Homo sapiens: one gene and its partner. The protein of the gene in region 1 interacts with the protein of each later gene in a biochemical or structural test. Each region holds a gene or a part of one and is shown in the gene's direction. Other genes may lie near its edges.

Region 1 (3,707 bases):
TGCAGAAGTGGTTGCAAAATTTCTCCATAAGCATGATTTGGATCTTATATGTAGAGCCCATCAGGTATTGATTTTGAATTTTACATGTACACTTAAGAGCATGTGTGTGAGCACAGATTCTCCTTGTTGATTTTGGTGGGTAGGTATTGCTTATTTATACAAAGTGTTTCTGGAACACAAGATATCAGGCTCAATGGGAAACTGAAACATGGTTTTACTCACCTAATATTTGCACCTATTTATATTGAAAAAATTTTCTCTTCAAGGTGGTTGAAGATGGATATGAATTTTTTGCAAAGAGGCAGTTGGTCACTCTGTTTTCTGCGCCCAATTATTGCGGAGAGTTTGACAATGCAGGTGCCATGATGAGTGTGGATGAAACACTAATGTGTTCTTTTCAGGTAGAGCATGCTTTCAACATGATTTCCTTTTAATATGTTTACACTTTGCTGATTGAAAAATATAATTGCTACTTTTTGCCTAGTGTTCACTTATGCTGAGTAGGCTAAGTTTTTATTTTCCCTTAACCAGTGTGTATTATAGTTGAATAATGTGTGGATCCCTTGTAAAAGAAAAAATTAATTATGGCACCTTTTCCCAGTGTTGAATTATAAATTTTTGCATTGCATATTGGCTCCTTAATGCTTATGGCTCTTTTACTGTAAATCTAAAACCTTAATGACAATGTAATGTTCAGCTAAAATTAAATCACCACTTGAATGTGAAAAGTACTGAGTGCCTTGTGCTATGTGTTTACTTAGTTCTGCCCTCTAGTCTAACTTCCACAAAACTTCTGTTAATGTACCATGACATCATTTGGCCTTCAGTTGGCACAAAAGCATTATTTAGAATCTGCCTCAGCCTTTTTCTCATTTGCTTATTATGATACTTGTACAACTTCAAGCCAGCCTAGTCATAAACATAAATACAGCCACCAAATCATGTGGCACTCATCAGTTAAATGAATTAAAATAGTTTTTTACCAATTATCAGAGAGAACTTGCAGCTTTCAAAATTCCAAAGATTGTGCAAGGATCCCCTACAGGTTGGAGAAACACTTTTGTAAAGAACTTTTTCCCCTGTATCAGAAGGAGTAGCTAAAGATACTACCAGGTGTAGACTTCAGAAGATTGTCATTATACTCAGAGGCAAAATAATTTGTCCAGATAATAGATTTTATCTGTTCGTCATAGCGTTAATTACCAAATGTTTACATTCAACATAGCTTGTGTTAATATGCTAGGGGGGCTTTTACAGTTGTTGGGGCAGTTGTGAACACCATCTGAACAGAAGATCTGAATGAAATTTAAGGACTCTTAAGATTTGGGGTTGAGTATATTTCCTAAATTAACTGTCTTTTGAATCTCCAGATTTTAAAGCCTGCAGAGAAAAAGAAGCCAAATGCCACGAGACCTGTAACGCCTCCAAGGGGTATGATCACAAAGCAAGCAAAGAAATAGATGTCGTTTTGACACTGCCTAGTCGGGACTTGTAACATAGAGTATATAACCTTCATTTTTAAGACTGTAATGTGTACTGGTCAGCTTGCTCAGATAGATCTGTGTTTGTGGGGGCCCTTCCTTCCATTTTTGATTTAGTGAATGGCATTTGCTGGTTATAACAGCAAATGAAAGACTCTTCACTCCAAAAAGAAAAGTGTTTTGTTTTTTAATTCTCTGTTCCTTTTGCAAACAATTTTAATGATGGTGTTAAAGCTGTACACCCCAGGACAGTTTATCCTGTCTGAGGAGTAAGTGTACAATTGATCTTTTTTAATTCAGTACAACCCATAATCATGTAAATGCTCATTTTCTTTAGGACATAAAGAGAGCCCTAGGGTGCTCTGAATCTGTACATGTTCTTGTCATAAAATGCATACTGTTGATACAAACCACTGTGAACATTTTTTATTTGAGAATTTTGTTTCAAAGGGATTGCTTTTTCCTCTCATTGTCTTGTTATGTACAAACTAGTTTTTATAGCTATCAACATTAGGAGTAACTTTCAACCTTGCCAGCATCACTGGTATGATGTATATTTAATTAAAGCACACTTTTCCCCGACCGTATACTTAAAATGACAAAGCCATTCTTTTAAATATTTGTGACTCTTTCCTAAAGCCAAAGTTTCTGTTGAATTATGTTTTGACACACCCCTAAGTACAAGGTGGTATGGTTGTATACACATGCTGCCTTCTTGGGGATTCAAAAACAGGTTTTTGATTTTGAATAGCAATTAGTGATATAGTGCTGTTTAAGCTACTAACGATAAAAGGTAATAACATTTTATACAATTTCCATATAGTCTATTCATTAAGTAATCTTTTTACAGTTGCATCAGGCCTGAACCCGTCCATTCAGAAAGCTTCAAATTATAGAAACAATACTGTTCTATACGAGTGACCGATTATGCTTTCTTTGGCCTACATTCTTTATTCTGCGGTGAAGTTGAGGCTTATAAGTTAAAACAAAGGAACTAACTTACTGTCCACCAGTTTATACAGAACTCACAGTACCTATGACTTTTTTAAACTAAGATCTGTTAAAAAAGAAATCTGTTTCAACAGATGACCGTGTACAATACCGTGTGGTGAAAATGAATTCAGACTTATTAAATGATGAACTTGTTAAATCTTCTCAGTGTCTATTTATCAGCACAATACACACAGGAGAACTGTTGATGGCATATTGAATAGATTTTCCTGAATAAATTGCTCTGGAAACCACACGGTTGCATTTTGGTTTTGCTTCTTTCAAATAGTCTGTTTTCCAAAGATGGATTATAATACAGATACTAATACTCTTTGAGTTGTAACCTGGAGACATCTATTTGTGTAATAGAGTGATGAGGTGGAACGATCCTCCTCTACCATTTGGGGAGATGGGGATTAATCTGTGTCCATAGTTTTCTTACTGTCTGGGTTCACTTGAACTTAGTGGCGAATTTGAAAGCAGCTCACTTTGTTTTCTGAGTCAGCCACCTATATTTTCATGCACAGTTCTTTGATCTCTTCCCCCTTCCCTGGTTTATATGGAACACAGTATCATGTCATATTTTGTCACAAGTATGTATCTTAATTTCTCAAAGGTACGCTAAAAATGAGTGAAGAGCATGTCATTTGAAAAGCTTTTTTTCCTGTTACAAAGTGGTCTCCCTGAGGGCGTTGGCAGAGGACCTAGCGAGGAACTCTTTGAAGGACACAGAAGAGCACAGGGCCATGGACTCCCCTCTGCTAACAAGCCCCGGTCCTGAGGCATCTGGACCCTGCCATGCTCCCATCAAAGAGGGAAGGGGGACCTCATTACCTGCCTGCTCCACATTGACAATATCCAAACTTGTGCTGTTTCACTTTTACGTAATATTCTCCCAGACTTCTTTGACTATAGGAAGAAAACAGTGAATGATAATTGTGTCAAAGGCAAATTCTGCACATCTTTATGTCCTGAATGTTAATGAATTGATACTAGGATTTCAAAATGCTATAAAGTAAAATTGGGCTGCTCTACTAGGATTATATCATTATTGGAGTGTGGTATCAGGCTCAAGTTTTTCTTAAGGAACATTTATCAAGTACTAAGGATTATATCATTATTGGAGTGTGGTATCTGGCTCAAATTTTTCTTAAGGAACATTGGTCAAGTAGAAGACAAGATTAATCTTTGGTTTTAGGACCTGAGATCATTAGGAGAGACTCAGTTTGAAATCTG
Region 2 (3,500 bases), on another chromosome or scaffold:
ACACACAGCAGAGAGCTGAAGGGTGAGCTAGAGGGAAATAACTAGGCAAGCAGGAGGGTAGATGGGGGACATTCCAGGCAGAGGGGACAGCACACGTAAAGGCCCTGTGGCAAGTCTGAGGATCTGCAGGAAGGCCTGTGTGGCTGGGGGACAGAGAGCAAGGGATGTTTGCAGCAAATACTGGCCTGAGACTGAGTGCCAACATGGCTATGAGGTTGTGGCGCCTTTTAACAGAGCAAGTCAGGAAAGGAGGCATAGGTTTGTGCAGCTGCGGGGGCCTGGTCTGGGGCATGGTACCTGGGAGGAGCTGGGAGCTAAAGCTGGGAGTTGGGAGCAAGGGTGGGCTGGGACTTGAGATTTGCAGCTCAGAGTGCACAGAGGTAGTGTGGGAGATGGGCCGGTGCCCCAGGGCAGTGAGTATAGAGAGAACAGAGGATCCGGAACTGAGCTGTGGGGGACTGGAGGTCTGCGCTGGGGTCACCTGGAAGCTGGGAGAGAACCAGGATTGTTCAGGAAGCCACAAGTGCAGAGACTGGCGAGCAGGGCTGGGGCTGCAGAGAGGGGACAGAGAGTAATGGTGACCCTCATCTGCCCTTTTACTTCACATGTACTGTCTCACTGGAGCTTTTGTGAGATTGGGAGGCACATATCACTGCCATTTTACAGATGGGATAACTGAGGCTTGGGACATTAGTTGCATTGCGCCAAGTCAGAGTATCAGTGACTAACCGAAGCCTCCAGCCTCCCTGCGAGTGGGGTGCAGTGACAGGGAGTCTGGTGGGAGCTCTGAGGCTGAGCTCTACTTCTTTCCTCTCTGGGTTTCAGTTCTCAGGCTCAGCCAAAGAGGGTTAGTAGTTGGGGTGCAATGGACTCCACAACGGTAGGAATCCCCTGGCGACTCTGGCCCCAGTGCTAGGATGGGGGTACCCTTTGGCTCCTGCTGGCCCCCACCAACCCAGGGCCGTGCCTTTCTCTCTCAGCTGCAGAGCCTGGAGCAGGAGAAGGGGCGCTGGCGGGTGGAGAAGGCGCAGTTGGAGCAGAGTGTGGAGGAGAACAAGGAGCGCATGGAGAAACTGGAAGGCTACTGGGGTGAGGCCCAGAGCCTGTGCCAGGCTGTGGACGAGCACCTGCGGGAGACTCAGGCGCAGTACCAGGCCCTGGAGCGCAAGTACAGCAAGGCCAAGCGCCTCATCAAGGACTACCAGCAGAAGTACGTGGCTGGGGGCTGGGCGGGCTGGGCCCAGGGAGCATTGAGAGGCTTTTGGGGACAGTCCCTCCCCATCCCTCCAGCTGAGTAGGGAGGCACAGAAGTTGGAGGGCCCCATGGTGGGGACACCCGGTCCGGAATGACCAGGCATCAGAGCCAGCACAGAGCCAGACCCCCAGAGGCTTTGGGAAAACCTGGGGCCTCCTGACCTGAGAACAGGGAAGGACAGAGTTGCCCAGGTAAAGCTGAGGACCTGGGTCACCCTGGATGAAAGCCAGACCACACACCCTTACCTGCCATCTGTCCCTTGCCTGTGCCCAGGGAGATCGAGTTCCTGAAAAAGGAGACTGCACAGCGTCGGGTTCTGGAGGAGTCGGAGCTGGCCAGAAAGGAGGAGATGGACAAGCTCCTGGACAAGGTGGGCCTGGGGCGCCCTGTGGGCAGGGCCCAGTGGAGGGAGCAGCATTGAAGCCCCTACCCTGTGGGTCCTGGAGGGAGGGGATGCCATGTCCTCACCGGGGGGCGGAAGGGGCTGGGATCATGCCTGGTGTCCAGACCTGACCCCCTACCCTCCTTTGTTTTCCAGATCTCAGAACTGGAAGGAAACTTGCAAACACTGAGGAATTCCAATTCTACTTAACAGGAATCATTCCATGACTGGACAATAATTAACCCCCCTCCCATTGTCCTCCCTCCCCTGTCCTCAACACCCCACCCCTCCCCCTTCCAGCCTGGGGACAGGTGCCCCGACTCCCCCCACCCCTCCACCCCACCTCCCCCAGCTTCAGGGACCAGAGGGCTCATATCACAGGCCCCCTTAAGATGGCCTGGGCAGACAGAGGTGGCTAGAAGGGCAGCCTCTTTCTTGCCCCATGGGGCTGAGGCACAGAGGCCGAGGGCTGCCGAGGGCTGGCCTGGTGGTCGACGGACACAAGCACCTGCAGATCAAACTGCCAGACTTTACACACTCCAGCTTTTGTCTCTGGACTGGAACGGGGCTGGGGCTCTCCCAGCATCTGCCAACTGGGGGCTGCTCCCTGCCCATGGGGCACCTGGGTGGCCCCTGGGCCTCTTGACTTGAGATTCTACCTTCTCGGCCCTTCCCTCTCCCCCCATCATTGTGCCGTCTCTGTTGCATTCTGACCCTCCCGCCTGGGGGGTGGGGGCGTTGCCTCAACACCTCCCCCATCCCTGTTCCCTGTCCTGGGAGGGATAGAGTCCACCCCAGAGCCCGGAGGCTGGGCCTGGCCCTGGCCCTGCACTGATTTCTCATGTGTCCTTCGGGAAAAGGGGGAGTGAGAGTGGGAAAAAGGGAGAGTTCAGGACACCTGGTCCCCAGCTCCCCATTGCCTGGGGCAGCAGCCCTCAATTTCTCCTTGTGCCTCCCCTCTTCCAGGTGCCAAATAGCCATAACCTCGTCTTGGAACTGTTATGTGGCCTCTCTGGGGTCCAGGTTTCCTGGTCAAGCCTGGGAATGCCAGGGAGGAAAGGGGGTCTGGCTACAGCGACCCTGGTCTTAGGCAAGGGGAACATTTCTCCCTGGAGAGTCAGGTCCTATCCTGTGCTGCCCTGTCTGCCCAGCCCAGGGCGATGCCTGGAAGCCTACTGACATTGCAGGGAGTCAGCCTCGCCCCCACCCCCTACTGGTTTTCCAATGTTTTGACTGGAGGGCAAAATTTTACTACTACTCATCTTTTTGGAGACCAGGGCTGCCCTGCTGGCAGCCTGCCTTCTAAGTGAAATCGACTCTGTTTCCCCACTTTAACCCCAAATTGGGGCTTGGACCAAGGGAGGTGAGACCACCTCCCCCAGGTCCCCTCCCCTTTCAAAATCCATCTCATTTTGCCACTTCATGCCCCTGCCCTAACTGGGTTTTTGTTCATTTTTTAAAAACAGACCACCCATCCCATCCGTTTTGGCTTCTTGTCCCCTGTAAATAGACCATGACTTCGATCAGTATTTCTTGTCCCCACCCCTTCCTATCCCCAGATGTGCCCCCATCCCCTGAAGGAGCTGGCTGTCTCAGTCCTGGGCTCGCGCACTTCACCCCGGCAGATGGAGGGGGCGGAACCGGGTGGGCGGGGCCGCTTCGGGCTGCTTGGGCCAGCGGCCACCCCTGCCCAGCCGTCGGGAGGGCCGCATCTCTGTATATAATATATATATGTATGTATTGTTCCCGGTTTTGTACGGACCATGCCCTCTGTCAGGTCGTCCCCATAAAAGCAGCCCCCAGAGCCTTGCTGCCTGGTTTCTTGATTCACTGAGGTGGGGAGTGGGCAGGGATCAAGGATGC

Evidence for each region.
Region 2: the proteins of PPP1CC (region 1) and PPP1R9B form a complex in vitro, tested with the Homo sapiens proteins (2 studies listed by BioGRID).

What each region holds. Positions count from the first base shown.
Region 1 is NC_000012.12:110,718,829-110,722,535, reverse strand, and holds the end of PPP1CC (serine/threonine-protein phosphatase PP1-gamma catalytic subunit), read left to right. Parts: coding exon 1-64; intron 65-266; coding exon 267-401; intron 402-1,370; coding exon 1,371-1,460; 3' UTR 1,461-2,331; coding exon of another isoform or gene 2,332-2,402; 3' UTR 2,403-2,856; downstream 2,857-3,707. UniProt on the Homo sapiens protein: Protein phosphatase that associates with over 200 regulatory proteins to form highly specific holoenzymes which dephosphorylate hundreds of biological targets.
Region 2 is NC_000017.11:50,133,678-50,137,177, reverse strand, and holds the end of PPP1R9B (neurabin-2), read left to right. Parts: intron 1-980; coding exon 981-1,210; intron 1,211-1,528; coding exon 1,529-1,625; intron 1,626-1,793; coding exon 1,794-1,847; 3' UTR 1,848-3,441; downstream 3,442-3,500. UniProt on the Homo sapiens protein: Seems to act as a scaffold protein in multiple signaling pathways. Modulates excitatory synaptic transmission and dendritic spine morphology. Binds to actin filaments (F-actin) and shows cross-linking activity. Binds along the sides of the F-actin.